Linked DNA regions of Homo sapiens: region 1 is linked to region 2. The links come from fine-mapping of genetic effects on gene expression. Tissue or cell type: monocytes after Pam3CSK4. Region 2 holds a variant in brackets; the other region holds the start of a gene. All regions are shown on one strand. Distances are from middle to middle.

Region 1 (8,107 bases), 170 kb after region 2:
TTAGGCAAACTTTCAATCAAAACTGAATGCCTGCTATTTATGTACTACAGATGTTGACAAAGGTTCTGCCCTACAGAAATTCCAGCCTAGGTGAAGAATGACACCCCTGAAATCATTTAAGTAGCTAACAAGGCAGTACACAATTAGGTGTCAAAATGAATGATGAATGATTAACAAAGACCACAAATTCAGAGGGAGCATGCAGGACTGAACAGAAATGGCGAAAGGCGGTAGGAGAGAGGCTGCTGCAGTGCCCCATGGTGAAGGCAGTGGGAGAGTGATCAAAAGAGGATGTAACAGGCACTGATGCCACTTGGTGAAGGGTCAAAACTGAATCCAGTGGGGCAGGCAGAATAATCATAGCATTAATAAAAAACTGAAAACTGGAGGTGGCGCAAGATAATTCTGCCCTGGACACATGCAGTGTGCACCAGCAGCTAGACACACACAGGGAGGAAGACAACCAACAGGCAATTGGAGAGCAGCAACTGTCAGCTAGGGCACAACCAGAACCGAGAAGTACAGAGTCACCGAAACAATGCCAGATGCTGCTTACAAGAGACCGTAGGGGAAAATTCAGCTGTAGGAAAAGGGCCTCTTGGTCTGGCAAGGCCAATCAGAGCGCTTGAGTCACATATAGGCAAGAGAGAGAACACCTAAAATATCAAGCACCTAGCAAAGATTTTATTTTCCTCCAAGAGTAATTTGGCTTATTGCTACTCTGGATAGTAACAATTAGATGAGTTTACATCTACTCCCAAAGCAATCTTGTTGGCAGATGTCTATGAGGGTCCACTGTAAGAATTAGAAGGAGGAGGAAAATGGTCATTAGCAAGAGGAAAAAAGGACACACTTTTTCCAACTACAAAACTCCAATGCTCCATCAGGCAACAGCCTTTAGTAAAAGCAGGCTACAAACGTTCATTAGTGAAGCACTTATTAAATAACATTCTATTTACAAGGCCCTAAATTAAAAGGTACCCACTCTACCCCATACAAAGGGTTAACACATCTCACTCTTAAGAAAATCACTTTCAAAAACATTTTAACATTATCGAGTAATAAGTAGGTTAAAAATAGTTTGGTTAAGAAAAAGTAAATAACACTCCTAGTCAATTTGGCTACCCTTAGAAAACTATTAGATTCTTATCTGTTTTCTTGTGGTCTTTAGTCCTATGCACTTTTCTCATATGCTTTGTAAATACTTTTGTACTGTGTTTTGCACCTATGTCACAAATACAGCTTAAAACAAAAATTTGTGCATGAAACTATAGTACACTGGCAAAAAATTTTTAAAGTCCTAATAAAGGCTGTCAAACGTTACCCTGCCATTTAATTGCCAATTAATAAAACATGTGACAATGAAATTTAAATTGTCATAAATTGAAACATTCTTGAAAACTTATTCGAATTTATATTTACTAGATACATAAACTATAGCTTCTCATTTATAATAAATGCCTTCCAAAAACCCACTTCACAATGAAATTATATTACATGATATATAATGCTTTTTTAAAAAAGGTCTTATTTGCCAGTCATAATGGGCTGCTTTATAATTCAAAAGACTACTAAAAGTATACATTTAATATATACACATACACATGTATTTTCACTATATATTTTAAAAATATATTTTCACAACTCACACACATTTTTGCTATTCTCAGTATCTAGATGTTAGCCTCAAGACAAAATCTTGCCACCAATCTAGAACTAGTTATTTGTAGTGATTATAACAACTTCTATCTCTGGAAACTCTTTCAAAGTCCTTACAAACTTTACATCACAGCCAAAACCATCTCAAAGGTACCTTTCCTCTGGACTAGTGATAGCACACTCCCATAGCTCAGTTAAGTCATATAGGATGTTAAGACAAGGAATGGTCCATGCTTCTGACTCAAGAAAATCAACATCAAGTCCAAACATGAAAAACTACATTAGGTAATTTATTTCTGCAGCTTTTCTTCAGGAGACAATGAGTTTTATTGTCTTTTAAAGATTTTGCAGTGAAATTATACAGTAATGAAGGAAAAGAAATACAAACATACAAAATACCTGCAGAATCATCATTAAAACTGCAGGTAAATCTTAACTTTGAAATTTTAAACTAGTTTATGCTACTTCAATAGACACAAAATTCCTCCGGGTGTGAATGATCAAACTGAACTCAGCCATCTTCAGAAATCTGCCCAAACTTGCTGAAAAACTCAACAGTACCTTTTAGGACAAATACTGTATTTGTGCCTCATCAGATGCCAGACTCACAGTGTCACAATCACGTAAGAAAATAAATTGCTTTTCCCCTACTTACTCAGAAACAATACTGGAATATGATCAGTTTTAAAGGAGAAGCCATTTCTGGAGATACCTTCACAGAATATTTGATTAGAACCAGATCTGTTTATGATGGGTAGAGGCCTATGTTCTATATCAGCATCATCTCCATTAATATCTTGGATAACCGCACACACAAATTGTTCATACAGAAAAGCATGGGCCACAAAGGATATCTGATTCACCCAGGCCACTGGCTGATTCAACCACCCCTTTAATACATACTTAACACCCTGGCAAGTATTCTCCTCATCCAATCCTTACACACATTTATGGGTATTAGAGAGGTGCACTAACATGTATAAACTATGCAAATGAGAAATTAGCAAATATATTTTAGGCTGACAGTTCTCAAACAAAAGGTTTGTTTACTTAACTTTACCCAGAGTAAAGTTTTTATTAGCATATAAAATGGCTGTTGGAAAAATCAGCAGCAGTAGAAGGAAAATACAAACTTAATGCTTTACTAGATTCAACCATTATTTCAATTCCCTGTGCTAAGGGCGCATGAAGACAGTCATTCACTCAAAGGCTAAGCGCCAGTGTGTCTGGCACTGTGCAAGGTAAGCAAAGGAACAGAAAAACAAGGACACAATACCCACCAAGGTCTACTTGAAGTCCCACCCAAAAAATGTCCATTAAATTACTGCACTATTTTGGGTTCACTGAACACCCACTACAGGCCAAAATGCTAGGTGCCACGATCACACATAAGAAAGAACACTCAACTAACTGCAGATCTGTGGCCAATGATGTATTATGACAACCCCAGGACCGACTAGTCCTAAAGCGGCAATATTTTATTCTGGAAATAATTTTGCTTCCATCAATTAATCCTTTCTATAGACGACAATTCTTTGAATAATTTCCACCAATGTTAACTCAGACTAAGGTTGCTTAGAGAGTTAGATAAGGGAATGTAATGTGGACAAAAATAAAAGAAACAGTATACTGAAGCACATTTGCACTTTAATACTAATTTGGTTTGTATTTGCTTTCACCTTCAGCAACAATAAAAAGCAAGTGACTTTAGTCATAAAGTAGAATGTTAACTCTAAAATTACCGTGGCAAGAAATTGTTTTCTTGTACAGGCAGTTTCATGTGCAATGCTAAACTAACAAGTTTTGCGTGGTTTGTTTTTTTTTTAAACTATTCACTTAGTCAATTCTTCATGAAGGCTCTGTGACCATTCACATGTCCCTTGGCTCAAAAAGAGGTAGTGTAGATGAAATTACACTGATTTGGTCTTCAAGATTACAAAATAATTTTTGACCCTGTCCAAGTACCCGTTTTGCAGCAGTACAATACTAATGAGATTTTTAAAATAGGGGCCAGCCCTTAACTGTAAATTATAGATAAATGCTTGCAAGCTGGCAACTTCACGTTTATTTTTAAAGGCTTTCACATCAAAGATAAAGGCACCGAATCACGTATTTTAAAATAAGAAATGTAAACAGGCTTTCAACAGCTTACTAAAGAGTTAAATGGAATTGTATTTAGGTCTAATAATAAAGTTATCAATAACGCAGAGACACTAAAGGAGGAAGCTACAGGACCAAGATTTCCCCTCGAAGAAATGTCTGAACAAATTCAAAGTGAAATTTTTTAAGCTGTGTCTCGCTATTTTTACCACATTTTAAAGTAAGCTCTGTCTGCATGCAACCAACCGCAACCAAGAAAACAGAAGTGTCCTAAAATGTACCTATTCGCCGCAATAAAGCCAAAAAATATGCCCCTCCTACCTAGCGGGCCAAGTGGCAAGAACGTACGAGAAGTCAGGAAGTTTTGAAATGGCAGTGACAGGAGACGGGGGAAGGCACGGGAAGGAATCACGGAGAGCGAAGGCCACTCCGTGCGGCGGGCGCCGCGAGGTCCCGGCTCGGGACGGTACCCGACCGCCCAACTTTGCGCCGGAGCCCCGGCCGCGGCCCTTCCTCCCGGCCCAGCCCTCCCGGCCTCCGCGAGAGCGGGGTGACAGCCCCGCCGCAGGGACGCCGCCGGGGGACACCCACCTTCCTTCTCGGCCCGCGCCGCAGCCACTACGAGGGTCATCACCAGGTGCAGCGCGCCTAGGAGGCCGGCGGCCGCGCTCCGCGGGCCCCCGCTACGGGCGGCCGCAGGTTCCAGCCCGGCCCCGGCGGACGTGGAGACGGCGGCGGTGGTGGCTCCGGTTGCTCCTCCTCCCGCCCGCTTCCCCATCCCTGCCGGCCGGGGGCCGCCGCGCTCGAGGTCCGGCGCGGCCCTTCTCGGCGAGGCGGCGGCGGCGCGGAAGCCGTGGTCCGGGCTCTGGCCGCGGCGCCGGGAGCGACAACGGTTGCGAGCCCGGGGCTCGATCTCCGAGCGTGGGCCTGGGTCCGTGCGTGCGTGTGAGCGAGAGTGTCAGTCACGGTCTTTGCCTGGGCATCGCCTACAAGCAGTCGGAGCGGAGAGGCCGCGGGTCAGGCGCGGCGGGCGGCCATACTGGAAACGGGCACGGCCCGCGAGCCCTGAGCGCTGGCCTGCGAGGGGCGGGGCGCGGCTCTGGGCACCGCCCACGCTGTGCCGACACCTGGGCTGTCCGGCGGTCAGTCTGTCCGCCCCGGAGCCCCCTGGGCCCCACCTCCTCGTCCCGCTCTCGGAGGCCTGCGGCTTCACGGCCAGACAGAACCAGGACAGAACAACCCCAGCCCGTTACCGCTACCTGGCGCAGGAGAAGGAGGGAGGCAGGCCCAGGTCCAGCTGCCAGGACTTATGATGGCGGCTTCTGCTTCGCGGAGGCGGTGTCGGCAATCACGTGGAGACGGGGCGGCCTCGCCGCGCAGCCGCCGCGTTGCGTGGGCGGGGCAGGGGCGGAGTTGCGGGGCGCTAACCTCTTCTCCGGCGCCTGGGCAATCCTCCGTGCTCTGTCCTACAGTGGTAGAGCCTTCCAGGGGTGTGAGTGCGCATACAGACCGCGAGACGAGCGCGGAAGGTCCGTTCCAGTGACTCTTCCTGGTGGCACCCCCACCTCTCGACCGCTTTGACGTCGAGAATACCCCGGGCCTGACTCAGTTCTTGATGGTGCTTCCTTGAGGATGGTGGCCCGCTGAACTCATCCTTGGGTCTTCCAAATCATGGTACCCAGGAGGAGCTTGATGGAGTCCTCTTGCCTTGGCTTGTGCCCACATTGGCGCGGAACACCTCGTGTGCAGAAAGCGTCGGTGACTCTGGATGGAGAAGGCAGGGGCAAACAGACTGCTCTTTAGAATATCCAGTAGCCGGCTTCCTCTCTCGAGGAAGAATTCTTTTTTTTCTTTTCTTTATTTTTTAATTATTTATTTATTTTTGAGACAGGGTCTGGTTCTGCCGCCCAGGCTGGAGTGCAGTGGTGCGGTCTGGGACTACAGGCACCCGCCACCACGCCACGCCAATTTTTCTTTTTCTTTTAAGAAACGCTGTCTCACTATGTTGGCCGAGCAGGTCTCGAACTCCTGGGCTCAAGCAGTCCGCCTTCCTCGGCCTTCCAGAGTGCTGGGATCACAGGCGTGAGCCACTGTGCTGGGCCCGGAAAAATTCTTAAGACGTCTGTTACCTTCACGAGCCATCTCGCGCCTCTTAGATGCCCTTTTCATCTTAGGTTGAGCTTCTTGGTGCGCATGGCTGTTGTCTCCAAGACTTAATTTAAGCTCTTGGAGGGGGTCCTTCTTTACTCATCTTAGTAACTTCCTCCCAGCTTGTAGCCCAGAGACATTTTACTTTCCTTAGCTGTATTTGTTGAGTGAGTCGATATATGTGTAAGGCCAAGTCTGCCCACAGTACGTCTCAGAACAAGCTAGATAGGAAAATAAGGTTTCAGAAAGACAAAAGGAACTCCAGAATCTACTCTATGAAGTAGTCCCCTGTGTCAAGCAAGCACTTAAATTTATTCATAAATTAATATATATTTAAATATGACCTTAGCCTAATGATTTTAAAAAGCAATTTTAGGGCAGGGCGCAGTGGCTCACGCCTGTAATCCCAGCACTTTGGTAGGCCAAGGTGGGCGGATCACCTGAGGTCAGGAGTTCGAGACCAGCCTGGCCAACATGGTGAAAACCCGTCTCTACTAAAAAATATAAAAATTAGCCGGGCGTGGTAGTGCATGCCTGTAATCCCAGCTACTCCGGAGGCAGGAAAAACGCTTGAACCCGGCAGGTGGAGGTTGCAGTGAGCCAAGATAGCGCCACTGCACTATACCCTCGACAAGAGCAAAACTCCGTCTCAAAAAATTAATCATAAGCAATTTTACTTTTTTGAATATTAGCCTTAAAATTGAGTAGTCAAATTTTATTTTGATGTAATGAAATAGGAATAATTATCTCTTAAGTTGGCGTTTAAAATGTCTGAGGCAAGAGATTTCTGGAAGGCTTTTGACTCACGGAAGAGATCAAACCCAAGGATATGTAACTGAGCGCTTTTGCTTAGCCTCCAACGTGCTAGCTCTGCAAGTCAGCAGCCCTTCCCCCATGGCCAGATTCAGGACAAACAAGCCTTTCCAACCATGAAGTGCTGAGGTTCTCTTACACAGCAATCAGCCACATCCCCTGGTTAGCCTGAGGCTCAGCAGCTCCATGGGAAATAACTTGCACCTGTCTGTAATTGGATCTTTAGACGTATACAGACATGTTTGATCAGAGTTCGATTTCCCATGCAGCTAATGAAGCTTAAGCCGCAGGGCCCCCTCTCTTGCACAAGTTCCTTCCAAGTCCCTGAACCTAATTGTGTATTTATAAGCCTGTATTCTTGTTCTTAAAGGAGCCCTCCCAATAGTTGGGTAGGCTTTTAAGGCCCACCATACCTGAACCCTCCCCTGTGCCTGAGGGACACTAGGAGCAGGAGGGGTGATGATGGAACTTTCCTCCCAGGAAAGGACAATGAGGCCACTGAGAGTCTAACAGTGAAAGACGTTTTGCTAGACAGCATGGTAAACTGTGTGTTAGAGAGAACCTGGCGTGGAGCCACCATCACCCTATGATCCTCTACCCCCACTCCCCAACCCTCATGTGTCTCAGGAGAGAACCAGGAGTTAAAATTGAAGGAACCATCACACTAAGGACTCTCAAATAGTTCTGATTAGTTGTGAACTTTTCTCTTTTTCCCTTTTGGAAATTGGAGAGACCTGGCCATTTGGCAGGTGGAGGTATTAGCTGGCAGAGTCAGGGAAAACTCGCTAAACCAGTGGTTCTCAAGGTGTCATCCCCAGACCAGCTGTAGCAGCAACACCTGGGAACCTGTTAGAAGTGCAAATTAGCAGGCCAAATCCCAGACCTGTGGAATCAGGAATTCTGGGTTGAGGTCCAACAATCTGTTTAAACAAGGCATCCAAGTGATTCTGATACAGGCTCAAGATTGAAGACTGTTGCACAGTGATATATGCCAGGAGCTACAAGCTGTTGGGACTCCTCACTTTCTGTTCATTTTGCTCTCTATGCAGGTTAGTAATTTACCATTCAAGGCAGAATTATAAGAGACTCAGACAAATTTGAACTTAAATCCCATCCCTGCCTTTACTAGCTATATGATGCTGAGCAAATGACTTTTCTGGCCTCAGATTCCTAATCTGTAAAAATGGGGATTATGATATAAATTTGGGGAGATTAAGCATATAGGTTTGTGAAGCATATAGACTAGTGTCTGGGACATAGGAGACTGTCAAAAGTAGCTATTAGTGAGCACTCACTCTTTTCAAAACACCACATTAGGCACGAAGATCCTTGATCCATTGATACCTCCACTTCATTCCACAAAATACTTAAGGAGGTGTGCAAGAAT
Region 2 (8,107 bases):
TCCTGCAGCTTGACCTTTTCTGTAAGAGGGAAGGCAAGTAGAGTGAAATACCTTATCTCTAAGCTTTCTTTTCATTGACGGAGAATCCACAACTATGCAAAGCTTGCAATTTACATCCCACAGGAGGACCTCTCAGCTTACCCCCATATCCTAGCCTCCCTATAGTTCACCTTCCTATTAATGATAAGCCTCCTCTAATTTCCCCCACCCAGAAGGAAACAAGCAAAGAAATCTCCAAGGTACCACAAAACTCCCCGGGCTATCGGTTATGTCCCCTTCAAGCTGTAGGGGGAGAGGAATTTGGCCCAACCTGGGTACCTGTCCCCTTCTCCCTCTCTGATTTAAAGCAGATCAAGGCAGACCTGGGGAAGCTTTCAAATGATCCTGATAGGTATACAGATGTCCTACATGGTCTAGGGCAAACCTTTGATCTCACTTGGAGAGATGTCATGCTATTGTTAGATCAAACCCTGGCCTTTAATGAAAAAAATGCGGCTTTAGCTGCAGCCCAAGAATTTGGAGATACCTGGTGTCTTAGCCAAGTAAATGATAGAATGACAGCTGAAGAAAGGGACAAATTCCCTACCGGTCAGCAAGCCATCCCCAGTATGGATGCCCACTGGGATCTAGACTCAAGATCATGGGGACTGGAGTTGTAAACATCTGCTGACCTGTGTTCTGGAAGGACTAAGAAGAATTAGGAAAAAGCCCATGAGTTATTCAATGATGTCCACCATAACTCAGGGAAAGGAAGAAAATCCTTCTGCCTTCCTCGAGCAGCTACGGGAGGTCTTAAGGAAATATACTCTCCTGTCACCCAACTCCCTTGGGGGTCAACTGATCCTAAAAGATGAGTTTATTACCCAATCAGCCACAGATAACAGGAGGAAGGTCCAAAAGCAAGCCCTGGGCCCTGAACAAAATCTGGAGGCATTATTAATCCTGGCAACCTCGGTGTTCTATAATAGGGACCAAGAGGAACAGGCCCAAAAGGAAAAGCGAGATCAGAGAAAGGCCACAGCCTTAGTCAAGGCCCTCAAACAAACCTTGGTGGTTCAGAGAGGAAAGAAAATTGAGCAGGCCAATCACCTGGTAGGGCTTGTTATCAGTGTGGTTTACAAGGACACTTTAAAAAAGATTGTCCAATGAAAAATAAGCCACCCCCTCACCCATGTCCACTATGCTGAGGCAATCACTGGAAGGCACACTGCCCCAGAGGGCAAAGGTTCTCTAGGCCAGAAGCCCCCAACCAGATAATCCAACAGCAGGACTGAGGGTGCCCGGGGCAAGTGCCAGCTCATGTCATCACCCTCACTGAGCTCTGGGTACGTTTAACCATTGAAGGCCAGGAAATTGACTTCCACCTGGACACTGGTGCAGCCTTCTCAGTGTTAATCTCCTGTCCTGGACGACGGTCCTCAAGGTCCATTACCATCCGAGGAATCCTGGGACAGCCTGTAACCAGGTATTTCTCCCACCTCCTGAGTTGTAATTGGGAGACTTTGCTCTTTTCACATGCCTTTCTCGTTATGCCTGAAAGTCCCACACCCTTATTAGGGAGAGATATATTAGCCAAAGCTGGAGCTATTACCTACATGAATATGGGGAACAAGTTACCCATTTGTTGTCCCCTACTTGAGGAGGGAATCAACCCTGAAGTCTCTGCATTGGAAGGACAATTTGGAAGGGCAAAAAATGCCCACCCAGTTCAAATCAGGCTAAAAGACTCCACTACTTTTCCTTATCAAAGGCAATATCCCTTAAGGCCTGAAGCTCATAAAGGATTACAGGATATTGTTAAACATTTAAAAGCTCAAAGCTTAGTAAGGAAATGCAGCAGTCCCTGCAACACCCCAATTCTAGGAGTACAAAAACCGAATGGTCAGTGGAGATCTTAGACTAGTGCAAGATCTTAGACTCATCAGTGAGGCAGTAATTCCTCTATATCCAGTTGTACCCAACCCCTATACCCTGCTCTCTCAAATACCAGAGAAAGCAGAATGGTTCACTGTTCTGGACCTCAAGAATGTCTTCTTCTGTATTCCCCTGCACTCTGACTCCCAGTTTCTCTTTGTCTTTGAGGATCCCACAGACCACATGTCCCAACTTATGTGGACGGTCTTATGCCAAGGGTTTAGGGATAGCCCTCATCTGTTTGGTCAGGCACTGGCCCATGATCTAGGCCACTTCTCAAGTCCAGGCACTCTGGTCCTTCAGTATGTGGATGACTTACTTTTGGCTATCAGTTCGGAAGCCTCATGCCAGCAGGCTACTCTAGATCTCTTGAACTTTCTAGCTAATCAAGGGTACAAGGCATCTAGGTCGAAGGCCCAGCTTTGCCTACAGCAGGTCAAATATCTAGGCCTAATCTTAGCTAGAGGGACCAGTGCCCTCAGCAAGGAATGAATACAGCCTATACTGGCTTATCCTCACCCTAAGACAAAACAGTTACGGGGGTTCCTTGGCATCACCAGCTTTTGTTGACTATGGATCCCCGGATACAGCAAGATGGCCAGACCACTCTATGCTCTAATCAAGGAGACCCAGAGGGCAGATACTCATCTAGTAGAATAGGAACCAGAGGCAGAAACAGCCTTCAAAACCTTAAAGCAGGCCCTACTACAAGCTCCAGCTTTAAGCCTTCTCACAGGACAACACTTCTCTTTATACGTCAGAGAGAGAGCAGGGATAGCTCTTGGAGTCCTTACTCAGACTCGTGGGACAACCCCACAACCAGCGGCATACCTAAGTAAGAAAACTGATGTAGTAGCAAAAGGCTGGCCTCACTGTTTATGAGTGGTTGTGGCAGTGGCCATCTTAGTGTCAGAGGCTATCAAAATAATACAAGGAAAGGATCTCACTGTCTGGACTACTCATGATGTAAATGGCATAGTAGGTGCCAAAGGAAGTTTATAGCTATCAGACAACCGCCTACTTAGATAGCAGATGCTACTCCTTGAGCAACCGGTGCTTCAAATATGTACATGTGTGGCCCTCAGCCCTGCCATTTTTCTCCCAGAGGATGGGGAACCAATCGAGCATGACTGCTGACAAATTATAGTCCAGATTTATGCCACCTGAGATGATCTCTTAGAAGTCCCCTTAGCTAATCCTGAACTTAACCTATATACTGATGAAAGTTCATTTGTGGAAAATGGGATATGAAGGGCAGGTTATGCCATAGTTAATGATGCAACCGTACTTGAAAGTAAGCCTCTTCTCCTAGGGAGCAGCACCCAGTTAGCAGAACTAGTGGCACTTACCTGAGCCTTAAAACTGAGAAAGGGAAAAAGAATAAATGTGTGTATACAGATAGCAAGTATGCTTATCTATTCCTACATGCCCATGCTGCAATATGGAAAGAAAGGGAGTTCCTAACCTCTAGGGGAACCCCCATTAAATACCACAAGGAAATTATGGAGTTATTGCACGCAGTACAAAAATCCAAAGAGGTGGCAGTCTCACACCGCCGAAGCCATCAAAAGGGGAAGGAGAAGGGAGAACAGCAGCATAAGCAGCTGGCAGAGGCAGGGAAAGACCAGCAGAAAGGAAAGAGAGAAAGAGACAGAAAGTCAGAGAGAGAGAGGAAGAGACAGAGACAAAGAGGAAGTCAGAGAGAAAGAGAAACAGTGAGAGAGGGGAAGAGACAAAGAGGAAGTCAGAAAGAGAAAAAAAGAGAGACAAAAAAGAAGTCAAAGAGAAAGAAAAAGAAATGGAAGTAGTAAAGAAAAAAGTGTACCCTAGTCCTTTAAAAGCCAGGGTAAATTTAAAACCTATAATTGATAATTGAAGGTCTTCTCTGTAACCCTATAACACTCCAATACCACCTTGCTGTCAGAGTAAACAAGGACATAGCCTGAAAGCACTGAGGTCACTGACAACCAGTAGCCTTCCTATCAAAAATCCTTAACCCAGCAGGTTTCCTAACAGGGGATCTAAATCTTAACTAATTACTATACAAAGGTCCGACCAGACCTAGGAGGAACTCCCTTCAGGACAGGACGATAGATGGTTCCTCCCAAGCAATTAAGGGAAAAAGACACAATGGGTATTCAGTAAGTGATAAGCAAAAAAAAAAAAAAAAAAAAAAA[T/A]TTTAAAATCCCAAACTTACAAGGTTTTCAACAAAAGTTTGCTAAAAGTTAACAGTGTTGGGGAGGAGTGGCAGCGGCAAGGCAGCCCAGTTTCGTGAAGGCTCTTGGCGCGCCGCGGCCCGCAGGCACCTGGCACGCGCCTTCCCCGCCGCCAGGATGCCCAAGAGGAAGGTCAGCTCCGCTGAAGCCGCTGCCAAGGAAGAGCCCAAGAGGAGATCGGCGCGGTTGTCAGCTAAACCTCCTGCAAAAGTGGAAGCAAAGCCGAAAAAGGCAGCAGCGAAGGATAAATCTTCAGACAAAAACGTGCAAACAAAAGGGAAAAGGGGAGCAAAGGGAAAACAGGCCGAAGTGGCTAACCAAGAAACTAAAGAAGATTTACCTGCAGAAAATGGGGAAACGAAAACTGAGGAGAGTCCAGCCTCTGATGAAGCAGGAGAGAAAGAAGCCAAGTCTGATTAATAACCATATACCATGTCTTATCAGTGGTCCCTGTCTCCCTTCTTGTACAATCCAGAGGAATATTTTTATCAACTATTTTGTAAATGCAAGTTTTTTAGTAGCTCTAGAAACATTTTTAAGAAGGAGGGAATCCCACCTCATCCCATTTTTTAAGTGTAAATGCTTTTTTTTAAGAGGTGAAATCATTTGCTGGTTGTTTATTTTTTGGTACAACCAGAAAATAGTGTGGGATATTGAATTATGGGAGGCTCTGATTGTCTCGGGTGTCAGCTTAACATTCCATAGATGGGGGGTTAGTTTTTATATCCTATAATACAAAGCATATTAAATGGCAATATGGAGTCAGTCCTGCATTTAATGTCTTGAACATTTTAAATTACTTCTATTACCATGTTGTTTTTTAGTAGAATTGTTTCCTAAAGAAAACCACTCTTTGATCATGGCTCTCTCTGCCAGAATTGTGTGCACTCTGTAACATCTTTGGTTGTGGTAGTCCTGTTTTCCTAATAACTTTGTTACTGTGCTGTGAAAGATTACAAATTTGAATATGTAGTGTACGTGCTATTGAGTTGTGAACTGGTGGGCTGTATGTAACAGCTGACCAACATGTGAAGATACTGGTACTTGATAGCCTCTTAAGGAAAATTTGCTTCCAAATTTTAAGCTGGAAAGTCACTGGAATAACTTTAAAAAATAATTACAATACATGGCTTTTTAGAATTTCGTTATGTATGTTAAGATTTGTGTACAAATTGAAATGTCTGTACGATCCTCAACCAATGAAATCTCAATTATGAAAAAAAAAAAGTGTAACATATATTATCCTAACTTCTAATCTTATGGAAATCAGACATAGGGTCTGTGCCCCTCAAAGCTCAAGTGTCTCAGCACAGGGCCATACAACTAACACCCCTACTTATAGGGTTAGAGATGGCCACTGCTACAGGAACCAGAATAGCAGGTTTATCTACATCATTATCCTACTACCACAAACTCTCAAAGGATTTCTCAGACAGTTTGCAAGAAATAATGAAATCTATCCTTACTCTACAATCCCAAATAGACTCTTTGGCAGCAGTGACTCTCCAAAACTGCTGAGGCCTAGACCTCCTCACTGCTGAGAAAGGAGGACTTTGCACCTTCTTAGGAGAAGAGTGTTTTTTTACACTAACCAGTCAGGGATACTACAGCGTTTACAGGAAAAGGCTTCTGAAATCAGACAACGCCTTTCAAACTCTTTCAATGCCTTTCCAACTCTTATACCAACCTCTGGAGTTGGGGAACATGGCATCTTCCCTTTCTAGGTCCTGTGACAGCCATCTTGCTATTACTCGCCTTTGGGCCCTGTATTTTTAATCTCCTTGTCAAATTTGTTTCCTCTACGATCGAGGCCATCAAGCTACAGATGGTCTTACAAATGGAACCCCAAATAAGCTCAACTAACAACTTCTACCAAGGACCCCTGGATCGACCCACTGGCCCTTTGACTGGCCTAGACAGTTCCCCTCTGGAGGACACTACCACTGCAGGGTCCCTTCTTTGCCCTTATCCAGTAGGAAGTAGCTAGAATGATCATTGCCCAATTCCCAACAGCAGTTGGGGTGTCCTATTTAGAGGGGGGATTGAGAGGGGAAGCCAGCTGGATTTCCTGGGTTGAGTGGAGACTTGGAGAACTTTTCTGTCTAGCTAGAGGACTGTAAACACACCAATCAGTGCTCTGTGCCTAGCTAAAGGATTGTAAATGCAACAATCAGCACTCTGTAAAAATGCACCCATCAGCGCTCTGTATCTAGCTAAAGGATTGTAAATGCACCAATCAGCACTCGGTAAAAACGCACCAATCAGCGCTCTGTGTCTAGCTAAAGGATTGTAAATGCACTAATCAGCACTCTGTAAAAATGCACCAGTCAGCACTGTGTCTAGCTAAAGGATTGTAAATGCAACAATCAGCACTCTGTAAAATGGACCAATCAGCGCTCTGTAAAATGGACGAATCAGCAGAACATGGCGGGGAGCCAAATAACGGAATAAAAGCTAGCCACCCAAGCCAGCAGAGGCAACTAGGGTCCCCTTCCACGCTGTGGAAGCTTTGTTCTTTCGCTCTTAATAAATCTTGCTGCTGTTCACTCTTTGGGTCCGCACCACCTTTAAGAGCTGTAACACTCACAACGAAGGTCTATGGCTTCATTCTTCAAGTCAGAGAGACCAAGAACCCACCAGAAGGAACCAACTCTGGACACACAATGAAGGCTTGACCATTTTTCAATATGCTTAAAGGCTAGAAGTGGGAGTTCATCAACAACAAGCACAATATTTTTTGAGTGTTATCAGCCTGTACAACACCAAGCCAGAAATAGCAAAGCAAGGATGTTTGTTAAAATATAGTCACTATTAGTAAGAATTTAAAATAGTTGATGAAATTTTTTTCATGTGAAACACACCACTTTAAGATTTTCCTTACCAGATAAAAACTTTACATTAGTATTGCTACCTTAAAATACGCTGCAGTAATAACAAAGAAATATTCAACTGAAAACTCATGTTTTATACAAATGGTCTGAATTCTTCACTCATTATCAGTTAAAAAAAAAAAAAAAAAAAAAAAACCAAACCCAAATTGTTAAAACCCATTTTCCAGGGAAACAAAAAGCCAACAAACAAACCCAAGACAAAACACTTAAGTAGCTGGCCCATTCTGGTGGCTTTAAATGACAACTCATACACAATCAACACCTTGTAGTAAGCATATTTATACAACAACCTGTTAGTGACTATTGCTAACTCAAAGATAATCAAGAAGTATAAAACTATTGCAAGTTTCCCAGGAAAGGCAGTTCGCAAGCTTGCATATGTTCTAAATATAGTTCTAGGCTTTTCTCACAACATTCAGACCCAACTAATGCTCAGTAACCCTCAAGTGAAATTCAACGGTCCGGAACATTCTAAAACTGCTTATAAAAGCACTTGAGCAAATAAGGAAAAAAGCACTTTCAGCATTTAACATTGTATTTCTAATAATTTGTGTATGAGTTCACTAAAGCATATGTTAAGCTGATATTATGATTCCGATTTGTTAATTACCAAGGGAAACCTCATGCAAACATTCCTCTGAAGGCATCTCAGGCAAACTTACTCCATCATTTATACAGCACTAATGTTTTGTAAATGCTGAGGAAAGCCATTTTCTCAAAGTTGCATTATAGACATATTAGGAGAGTTTGGACCTGCGCATCCTGTCTGTTAGCAGTTGAGGAACTTCTATTTGGAATTGCTTGCTTTAGTAATCCTATATTTAGAAAGAGAATGAATTCCCTGAAGGGGAATTTAAAAAAAAGATCTCCAGCTTCTAGCACTGCTTAGCAAATCCTGAAAATTCTATGTTTGTGAAACAAAAGGAGACAGGAACCTTTCTAAATATCTATAGTCTCTAAGCCTGGTGAATTATGCAGAAAATGCTGAAACACACAGGGAAAACCTTAAGAAGAGCTCTGAAAACTCAGTTTCCACGGTAGGTGGGCTTGCCCCATAGCTGATAAGGTGGGAAATCTAAGCCACCA

Direction of the effects. Alleles are on the strand shown, and positions count from the first base shown. SD is a standard deviation of normalised expression in the study named.
With allele A in place of T in region 2, the expression in monocytes after Pam3CSK4 of the gene that starts at base 4,823 in region 1 is higher (large effect, 1.1 SD a copy in Quach 2016).

Evidence for each region. PIP is the estimated chance that this variant, and not a neighbour inherited with it, causes the effect.
Region 1: TMEM131 starts here. The variant in region 2 is fine-mapped to the expression of TMEM131 in monocytes after Pam3CSK4 (Quach 2016, PIP 0.95).

The regions. Positions count from the first base shown.
Region 1 is chr2:97,991,126-97,999,232 of GRCh38, forward strand. TMEM131 (transmembrane protein 131) reads right to left here and starts at 4,823. Exons shown (of 41, transcript NM_015348.2): 1 at 4,351-4,823. The coding sequence starts at 4,537. It overlaps LOC124905591 (a long non-coding RNA gene), which reads left to right and starts at 6,518. Exons shown (of 2, transcript XR_007087148.1): 1 at 6,518-7,769. RefSeq lists enhancers at 2,857-2,936, 4,569-5,082, 5,253-5,532 and silencers at 4,113-4,672, 4,783-5,032.
Region 2 is chr2:97,823,001-97,831,107 of GRCh38, forward strand. All of the region lies in intron 11 of TMEM131 (transmembrane protein 131), which reads right to left. It also overlaps the pseudogene HMGN1P36. Among named protein-coding and RNA genes, the nearest start is that of ZAP70, 110 kb to the left of the region's middle. The variant T/A (reference allele first, on the strand shown) is at 4,092.